Linked DNA regions of Homo sapiens. The protein of the gene in region 3 interacts with the protein of the main gene of each other region in a pairwise test. Each region holds a gene or a part of one and is shown on either strand. Other genes may lie near its edges.

Region 1 (3,652 bases), on a different chromosome or scaffold from region 3:
CCTTAAACAAGACACAAACGCTTTAATCAGAAAGTGAAAAAACCTGACACATTCAACAAAATTAAAATTAAGAACTTTTGTTCATAGAAGGACCGTGTGAACAGCGAGACGCGGCGTCCCCCAGGAGGTGTGGCTGCTGCATGTGTAACTGACAGTGTGAAGAGCTCCCACAAATCAATGGGAAAAACACCTTGGTAGAAAATGCGCACGGCCTTCGCCGGTGAGGAAACCCAGCGGGCAGCAAACCAGGGCAGCCCACCCCAACAACGCTGGAGGGACAGTGATGGGGAGAAGCGGTTTCAAGAGTCTGTTCCGATCTTCCAGAGCTGACCCTATGCGCACCCTGTGCCCCGGAGGTTCCACTGAGGGTGCACACCCAGAATCGCAGCCCACATCCCCAGACACCCGCACAGGAGTTTCCTAAGGTGGCCCAGGCTGCACAGTGCCCGGCAGTCTGCCAGGGAACAAACGGATTTCAGGGAAGCCACCATGACAACAGCAACTGGTAGCTCCACCTACCACCACAAGGGACCCTCACAAACAGAATAGTTTTGGTGAAAAAAAGCCACCCCCAAAACACAGGCTGAAGGAATCCAGGTATGAGGTCCCAAAGCAGGCAACATACAACCATCTCTGCTGGGGATGCCCTCTCAGGTGGCAGAACCACGAGGACAGCAAGGAACCACTGAGCACAAGGTCGGTGTCCCGGTGACTGCTTGGAGTAGGATGGGGCTGTCTGTGGGGAAGGGTCTCGGGGGATCTTAGGGGCTGGCCGGGAGCAGGATGGGGCTGTCTGTGGGGAAGGGTCTCGGGGGATCTCGGGGGTTGGCCATGTTGAACTCCTTGACACAGGTGGTGGTCGCCAGGTGGTCGTTCTAAACTTAACCACTGAACTGTGCGGATATTTATTAATGTCTCTGCAGGCCTATCACAGTTCACGACTTTGAAAAATTCTATTTTGGGGGGAAAACGTGGACACCAAACAGGAGTAGCTCTGGGCACCCCAGGAGCCATGAGAGGCGACTGACCCACTTCTCTGTTTGACAGAGGAGGGAACCGAAGCTCAAATAGAAAAAGGGGCTGCCCAGCAGCACGCTGCAGGAGGCAGGCAGGAGGGACCCTGTTTGGAGGGAGAGGAGGGGATTAATTTGAGGGATTAGAGGCACAGAGGCTCTGAGCACACGGAGAGCCAGCCGGGACTTGGTAATATCTATAAATATTTGAGAGTCACAAGAATAGTTTTTCCAAGCAGTCGAAGACAAGATAGCTGAGTGTGGCTGAGCAAGGGTCAAAGGACAAGAGCCAAGGTGGCCAGGCCATCAAATGGTGTGGCTGCATATCTACCATGTGGCCCCCCGGCCTGTGGGAGCCCTACTGTGCGCCAGCCTCTGCCAGGCACTGTGGCTGTCAGAACACCAGGGGCCAGACCCCGGCTCTGTTCTCTGGGGTGCCCATCTGGGGCCCTGGGGAAGACAGAAGACACCCCAGATGTCAGTGGGAGCCCCACTGACCTCCACTCCCCACCCCTTACCTGTCTTCCCTAAACACATCTGCTCTGGGCAGCCCCCAGGCCTTTGCACCTCTTGGAGGGTGGCCTGTCTGTCCTTGGAAACTCCTACCCATTCTTCATGCCTTGGCTCAAGTGTCCCTGCTTCCCGGAAGCTCTTCCCAATACCCCAGGCCAGGGTTCACAACCTGGGACCCCAGAGCATTGTGGGCAAACCCCTTCTGTATTCTGTCCGCTGGCCTAGGAGGATCTGTTGTGGGCCTCTGTCCCCGGCACTGGAGGGCCAACCGGGTCTTTTCACAGAGCTGGTACCCAGAGGGGGCTGGAGTCCACTTGGGAGGGAGGGGCAAGAGCGTCATGAAAACCCCAGGGAAAAGGCGACAGGGAAGACACAGAGTTTGTCATGTGGACAAGAAGGCAGGGAAGGGCATTCTCTACAGCAGGGACTGCGTGGGCAAAGGCAGGGGCATGAAGGTGGCAGCTTGTGGGGAACTCGGAAGCAGGGCGACAGCATGGGGGGGCAGCCAGTGGGAGGGACCAGGGAAGAGAGACCCCTCAATGTACACCTGCCCACCAAAGGGAGCCATTGAGGGCCACAGTGCCACCAGGTGACATGGTCCTTTTGCTCTTCAGCAAATATTTACAGGACTGTCCCATAAGTCAGTCCTGGCTCCAGGCCCTGGGGGGTGTGGGAGAGGAGGGGGCCAGGACCAGCACTCTCAGAGCTCAATCCAGACCCACAGACCCAGCCTGTGATGTGCAGACTCCACAGTCCAGGGGCCAGGAGGCAGGACCGACCATAGGGTCATCCCTGTGGACACTTCAGGACCCCTTCACTGTGACCACCGTGTGGTCTGAGGTTCCCCAGAGACCCTCTACCTGGGCCTGCTCTGGGCCAGGTCCCAGGAGAGATGCTTCCACCACAGGGGCTCACGGCACCCAACATCCCTGCAACCTGGTTGTGGTTAGGACACCCACTTTACAGATGAGAAAACTGAGGCCCAACCAGGGCCAGGACTTTGTCAGTGACTGGGTCTGTGGGACCCCAAACCCTGTGCCCTTCTGTGCAGGAAGCCATGCTGACCAACTTCCCTTCCACTCCCCTGGGCTTTTGGTTCTGAATCCCAGGCACCAAATGCAGGACAGAAACCCACTGGGGCAGCCCCGACACTGGCCAGAAGGGAAGATTCTGGAAAAGCCCTTCAGGCAACTCTGAGAACACTAATTGGGTGAGAGGGAGAGGAGGGCAGGACCCCTCCCCAGTTCTAGGAGTCCTTGCCCCACGCCACCCCTGGCAACTCCAGAAAGGCCACATGGCCCGATGCAGCCCAGGAGCCCAGGCCCTGGCCACTGCCTCCAGCCTTTATGGCTTAGCCCAGGGAAGCCTCAGCCCGCCTGGGACAGCAACGCTGACGCCATCAGCAGCTCAGGCAGCAGATCCGCCCACCTGGCACACCTGCCTACCTGTGCACCCAGCCGGGCGGGGTCATGCCTCTGTCCTCAGTGCCTGGCACACAGGAATAGGTGCCGGAGAGCCTTGGCCGGGCACAGGGAAGGAGGGAAAGAGAAAGAGAACCACCGCAGGGAACCCCCAGGCTGGCCTCAGGGCACCCCATGAATGCTAAGTTTTTCCTCAAGTCTCAGCTGAGTTAAGCAGTGTTTCCTCCCCCCCACAGGCGGTACAACCCAGGTGGTGAAATGACAGCCAATGTGGGGCACCAGGGAAGGGCCCTGGCCTGGGCCAGAGCCTGAGTTTGGGCCTGAGGTCATCTGTGTGACCACAGCCAGGGCTGTCGCTCTTTGGGCCTCACCGCCCCCACCTGGACCTTGGCCACGACAAGGTGGGCCTGGCTGATGGGTATCAGGTATTTGGGGTCTGAGATTGAACCACCTCAGAGACTGGACCCCTCCTCCCAGCACAAGACATGTTGGTCCTGTCCCTGTGGGACCCACAGTGGGGGCTGCACATCAGCTCCATGGCCCAGGAGATGGCCCTGCTCTGAGAGTCCACCCTGGGTCTCTGTGTGAGCCCACCTGCCCCCAGGCTCCCACCTGGGTGTTTCCAAGCCACTCACCCACGGCACTAAGGGTCAGCTGGCAGAGCCCAGGGCCCCTCTGCCCTAGACCTGGGCCCAGGCTGGGCTC
Region 2 (3,652 bases), on a different chromosome or scaffold from region 3:
CCTGCCTCAACCTCTCAAGTAGCTGGGACCACAGGCACACACCACCATGCCTAGCTAATTAAAAAAATGTTTTTTGTAGAGACAGGGTCTCGCTTTGTTGTCCAGGCTGGTCTCAGACTCCCGGACTCAAGTAATCCTCCTGCCTTGGCCTCCCAAGTGTGTGCCACTGTGCCCAGCCTGACAGCATTCTTAATAATGAGTGGGACAATTCCTTTCACTGTTAATTTGTGCAGTCTTAAGATAATGTTCTCTTTTTAGAATTTTTGATTCTATGTATAGAAAATAAATGGAGCAATTAAAAAATGAATCAAGAAATATTTATCCTGTCCTATTAGAGCCCCCAAACTTTCCCATTTCTTCAAGGTGTTTCAACTTTGCCTCACAAAACCTACCTAGTTTTCTTTGAAACTGATTACCATATTTACTAGACACAGAAAATATATTAGCTAGATGTTAATAGCAGACGCTGGCATAGGCAAAAGATCATTTATTAAAATAGTGGTATTCTGAAAATAAATATTTTAAATTCTATTTTATTATTTGTGCTTTTGATAATAAACTTGATACTGAAAAAGATTTTTAAAGGCAATAAAATTTTGTACCCAAATAAATATGCTTTAAAACTTTTGAAATTTAAAGAATTCTGAAGTTTCCATTAAATTCTGTGAGTTCGGAATTTAAAGCATAAACACTGTATATCATCAGTAACAATCTGTGACACTGATACTAGCAGCATTTGTCACAAAAGGAACATATCATGAAATGATACAATCATGAAAGGATAAAATTATCTTAAAGGATATAAAAACTCGGTCATAAATGTCTCCAGAATTTTTCAACAAAAATGGTCTGGTTTGCATATTGCTAGTCTCCAACAGAAATTAGAGCATTTTGTCTATTCTTGCCTAGTTTTAAAAGACATGGATGCAGTTTATTATATTGTTGTGATCAGTGCACATACTGTCATATTTTGCTATCATTTTATTATGTTTTGGCAAAAGAGGCAAAAATAATTCTAAACACGTGTAGCAGAGCATTCAGATTCAAGCAAGTTCCTATGGGTACATTTCTGTAGCTAAGTAAAAACTATATATCTCAAATATTACCATTCCCAACATTTCTCTTTTATTTTTTACTGACATGAAGCTTTAAAAGTCATGAGTCAATTTTGATTCCTATATATACCTTAAAACCTGCAAAGTCCAGACAAGTCCATGTTTGATGTCTTTCAAACAGCTTCTTACACTGGTTTCTACAAATGGATTCCCCACCTCCTTAAAAAAATTAAGTTCCCTTCAGGCATGTCTTTGATGTTATCATATAGAGACTCTAATTTTATATGGAACTATGTGGAACATATTGACGAAGGCATGGCCCAAACCAAAATGTTTTAAAATGACATATCTACTTAAAAAATAGTACTTATTCATTTAATACCTTTAAGAATCCATAAGTTATTTGAAATTGGGAAAGTGGCATGATCAATATAACGTACCAAAGATTATCTTCTCTTATGAGCTCATATATCCAATACCTAATATTCATAAAACACATGGACCTTATCATATACACCAACAATTACTGTATTCCTCCCTTAAAGTTATTCAGAGTATAGAAACTTTTGTGGGAATGTGATTAGAACATAACCATGAGGAGTACACTTTAAAGGAATTATCTACTACATAATATTTGCAAGCTTTATATATTCTATAATTTGATAAATATGGCATATTGTTCCTATTAAAGAGTATACCATTTGTTTCTTGATGCTTCCTCACTGTAAAATAGGGATTTCATGAAGATCCTGTAACACCAAAGAATAGGAAGAAGAAATCTGTCAAATATTTTATTTCTATTAAATTAATAGCTTATAAATAGCCAGGCACAGTGGCTCCTGCCTGTAATCCTAGCACTTTGGGAGGCCGAGATGGGCGGCTTGCTTGAGGTCAGCAATTCAAGACCAGCCTGGCCAACATGGTGAAACCTCATCTCTACTAAAAATACAAAAATTAGCCAGGAGTGGTGGTGCGTGCCTGTAGTCCCAGCTACTTGCGGGGCTGAGCCAGGAGAACTGCTTCAACCTGGGAGGCAGAGGTTGCAGTGAGCTGCGATCATGCCACTGCACTCCAGCCTGGGTGACAGAGTGAGACTCTGTTTCAAAACATAAAAAACAAAAATAGAAATCAAGAGTTTCAAGAAAGTTGCAGAATATAAAATCAACTCACTAAAACCAGTTGTATTTCTATACACTAACAATGAACAATCTGAAAAGCAAATTAAAAAAACAATTCTATTTACAGTAGCATCAAAAGAATAAAATACTTAAGAATACATTTCACCAAGGAGACAAAAAACTTGTACAATGACAATCAGAAAATGTTGCTGAAAGAAATTATAGAATGACCAGGTGTGGTGGCTCACACCTGTAATCCTAGCACTTTTGGAGGCCAATGAGGTCAGAGGACTGCTTGAGCCCAGGAGTTGAGACTAGCCTGGGCAACAAAATGAGATCCCTGTCTCTATAAAAAAATAAATTAGCCAGGTTCGGTGGTGCATGCCTGTAGTCCTAGCTACTCTGAAGGTGGAAGCGGAAGGATTGCCTGCACCCTGGAATTTGAGGCTACGGCGAACCATGATTGTGCCACTGCACTCAAGCCTGGGCAATGAGGCAAGACCTCATCTCTAAAAATTAGTAATTAAAAATTAAAAAATCTTAAAAAGAAATATAGACCGGGCGCAGTGGCTCACGCCTGTAATCCCAGCACTTTGGGAGGCTGAGGCGGGCGGATCACGAGGTCGGGAGATCGACACCATCCTGGCTAACACAGTGAAACCCCGTCTCTACTAAAAATACAAAAAATTAGCCGGGCGTGGTGGCGGGTGCTTGTAGTCCCAGCTAGTCAGGAGGCTGAGGCAGGAGAATGGCATGAATCCAGGAGGTGGAGCTTGCAGTGAGCCGAGATCGCGCCACTGCACTCCAGCCTGGGCTACAGAGCAAGACTCTGTCTCAAAAAAAAAAAAAAAAAAGAAATATAGAAGACACTAATAGAAAGGTATCCCGTGTTCATGGACTACAAAACAATATTGTTAAGATGTCAATACTATATAAAGCAATCTACAGATTCAATGCATTACCTATCAAAATCCCAAATCCCAAAATCCCAACATTTTTTGCAGAAATAGAGAAATCTGTCCTAAAGTCAAGGCAAGATGACAATCTCTTCAGCATAGCACATACCATTTTACATAATTTGGATCTATGTACATTTCTAGCATCATATCCTATCCACCTCCCCCAAAACTCCAATCTCCCATTCCATTTCCTCTTAGAACTAAACCTAACTATCCAGAGTTCCTTGAATAAAATCAAGCTCTTATCTGCAAACTTTTGCATGTGCTATTCTCTCTACTCAGAAAATTCCCTCCCCTTCCACCATCTTCCTTGCCTGGCTAATTAGACTTAATTATCAAGCCTGGTCTGACATAAACCATGCACAAACCCACTTCCCCATGCAACCACACACACCCTCAGTTCTTCCTTCATGTTTTCAGATAATAACATAGTATACTGCATTAAAATTCTAGACTAGAAATTCCCTTAAAGCTAGCACTATATAGGATTTATTCTTATTCACAAGGTCTGGCACATAGT
Region 3 (2,911 bases):
CCAGAACCACCACCTGGTCTTCTTCCTCCTGGAGGTCTTCAACAACATCATCCAGTACCAGTTTGATGGTGAGGCACCAGCCTGAGGCCCTGGTGGTCAGGGTGGCCAGCGGGCCTACTTCCTACATAAGGGGGGCACAGCCCAGGAGGTGGCCTCTGGGAGGTGCTGGCCTGCTTGCCTTCTGCCCCCAGTTCATTCATTCAGTGTACATTTATTGAGCATCTACAGTGTACCTGGGTGCAGGGGATGCAGTGGGGAACAAAGCTTTGCTTCTTGCCCTGTGGAGCTCATAGCTGGGGATGGAGGCAGGGAAGGAGGCTTCAAACAGATGATGGACATCTGAAATTTTTTTTTTTTTCCCGACGGCGTCTCACTCTGTCGCCCAGGCTGGAGTGCAGTGGCGCGATCTTGGCTCGCTGCAACCTCCGTCTCCCAGGTTCATGCAATTCTACTGCCTCGGCCTCCCAAGTAGCTGGGATTACAGGCGCCCCCCACCATACCTAGCTAATTTTTTGTATTTTTAATAGAGACAAGCAATCTGCCTGCCTCGGCCTCCCAAACTGCTGGGATAACAGGCATGAGCCGCCACATCTGGCCTGAAATGTGATAAAAGGGAAGTACAGAGTAGTAAGTCCCTGATGGGTATCTTAGCAGCCCGTCTGCCCAGTGTCACAGACATCCGGCTGCCTGCTGTCACTTCAAGCCTTGCCACTCGTTAGCCCTGTGACCAGGGCACGTCACTTGACCTCTCTGATCCTCAGTTCCCTCATCTGTAAGGTGCTCATAACAATGGTTCTAAGGGTCCTGGTCTCAGAAGGTGTTGGGAAGATGGGGCAAAATAACCCCCAGAAGGCACTTAGCACAGTGCCTGGCAACTTAAAAATGATCAGTTTCTATTATTGCTATTTCCAAAGTCGGGCAAATTTGCAGTGATCTCTGAGGGAGAAATAGGGGTAAGGTGGGGCAAGAGACAGCACATGCAAAGGCCCTGGGGTGGGATGTTGGAACTGAAAGTGAAGAGTATGGCATAAGGCAGGACCAGAGATGGGGACTGGGGCCTGAGAGCCAGGAGAAGTCAGCGTTGGGGGATGGACGGATCCTCTGTGACTTCTCCTGGCCACCTTGCTCGAGGGGAGGTGGGAAGAGAGTCAGAATATTTAACAGCTGGCCTGACGTGGATGCTGCCATGCTGGGGCCTGTACTTTTTGCCAGGTGTTAGCTGTTTAGTGCTGGGTTGTGGCGGGAACTCAAAGGCACTGGGGCGGGGGTGTTGTGAGGTGCTCAGGCCTGACATTCTGGGATAGCCATAGTGGGCACACACAGCCAGTGCCAGCCCTGCCCCAGCACCCTCTCTTGGGCTCCCTGTACCATCTCCAACCCCTTGGGCAGACACCCTCCTGTCCTCCAAACTCCCCCTTCCAGGAAGCCCACCCAGATTGGACGGGGGGAGCTGGAGGGGGCCTCCCTGAGGCGAGGCATGCTCCCTGCCCACAGGCAACTCCAACCTGGTCTACGCCATCATCCGCAAGCGCAGCATCTTCCACCAGCTGGCCAACCTGCCCACGGACCCGCCCACCATTCACAAGGCCCTGCAGCGGCGCCGGCGGACACCTGAGCCCTTGTCTCGCACCGGCTCCCAGGAGGGCACCTCCATGGAGGGCTCCCGCCCCGCTGCCCCTGCAGAGCCAGGCACCCTCAAGACCAGTCTGGTGGCTACTCCAGGTCTGGTGCTAGTGGATGGGACAGGAGTGTGGATACTGGTGTGGCTGGGGGAGGGACATGGTCTCGGGGTGTCACCCCCATCTCTGGCAAAGAGCATGGCTTATGTATGGAAGCCGAGGGGATGGGGCTGGGCAACAGGGATGGGGGGAGGGTACTGGATGGGCTTAGCATATGTAGCTTGGTGTTGGGGGCAAAGCCTCAGGGCGAGTGTAGACTCTGGAGGGATGGGCACAGGGATGGGGGAGGGTACTGGATGGGCTTAGCATGTGTAGCTTGGTGTTGGGGGCAGAGCCTCAGGGCGAGTGTAGACTCTGGAGGGATGGGCGCAGGAGAGGGCGTTACAGTGATCAGACACTGCCTCTAGAGCCGGTGGAGGTTCCAGAGGGAAGCAGGAGTAAAACAAATAAAAATAAAAAAGTGGGTGGAGGAAGGGCTAGAAGGGTCACTGTGGCAGGGAGTCCTCACTCCCACCTGTGCCCTGCCCAGGCATTGACAAGCTGACCGAGAAGTCCCAGGTGTCAGAGGATGGCACCTTGCGGTCCCTGGAACCTGAGCCCCAGCAGAGCTTGGAGGATGGCAGCCCGGCTAAGGGGGTGGGTGACGGGGACTCCTGGAGCCGGGCGTGGCTGGCCCTTCCCTTCCTCCCTGGTCTCTGCAGTAGGGGCTGGGCCGGGGCACTCTGGGGTCACCTGCAGCAGAGGGGCAGTTACCCAGTGCCCAGGGCATTAGGGTCAGCGCTGCTGACTCCCTTGGGGGTGGGGGCCTTTCACAGACCCCTCCCTTGTTTACTGGTTCCGGTGAAGCCCTTGGCCTTCAGACTTCTCATCCCTCCGCCTTATCTGAGCTGGCCTTTACCCGGCCTGCCCTGTCAGCTGCTGGCCTTAAACCTGTCACTAGGTTGGGCTGGGCCTAGGGCCTGGGGCAAAGGCTGCTGGGCTGGGCCTTCCCCTTTGTGGGATTTCCAGCTGCCAGTGGAGAGGGCTCATTGCCCCCCACTCCACCCCTCACCCACCGCCACCATCCCTCACCCCTGTTCCTTTCTGGGGGCCAGGAGCCCAGCCAGGCATGGAGGGAGCAGCGGCGACCGTCCACCTCATCAGCCAGTGGGCAGTGGAGCCCAACGCCAGAGTGGGTGAGGAGGGACCCTGTGCCAGGCGAGCGGGGGCTGGGGTTTGGGCAGATGGTACTG

Evidence for each region.
Region 1: the proteins of HID1 (region 3) and BEGAIN interact in a two-hybrid assay, tested with the Homo sapiens proteins (one large-scale study listed by BioGRID and IntAct).
Region 2: the proteins of HID1 (region 3) and RBBP8 interact in a two-hybrid assay, tested with the Homo sapiens proteins (one large-scale study listed by BioGRID and IntAct).

The regions. Positions count from the first base shown.
Region 1 is NC_000014.9:100,563,343-100,566,994, forward strand, and holds part of BEGAIN (brain-enriched guanylate kinase-associated protein), read right to left. Parts: exon of another isoform or gene 3,583-3,652; intron 1-3,582. UniProt on the Homo sapiens protein: May sustain the structure of the postsynaptic density (PSD).
Region 2 is NC_000018.10:22,939,696-22,943,347, reverse strand, and holds part of RBBP8 (DNA endonuclease RBBP8), read right to left. Parts: intron 1-3,652. UniProt on the Homo sapiens protein: Endonuclease that cooperates with the MRE11-RAD50-NBN (MRN) complex in DNA-end resection, the first step of double-strand break (DSB) repair through the homologous recombination (HR) pathway.
Region 3 is NC_000017.11:74,952,949-74,955,859, reverse strand, and holds part of HID1 (protein HID1), read left to right. Parts: coding exon 1-68; intron 69-527; coding exon of another isoform or gene 528-607; exon of another isoform or gene 608-1,418; intron 1,419-1,422; coding exon of another isoform or gene 1,423-1,469; exon of another isoform or gene 1,470-1,494; coding exon 1,495-1,722; intron 1,723-2,208; coding exon 2,209-2,315; intron 2,316-2,773; coding exon 2,774-2,854; intron 2,855-2,911. UniProt on the Homo sapiens protein: May play an important role in the development of cancers in a broad range of tissues.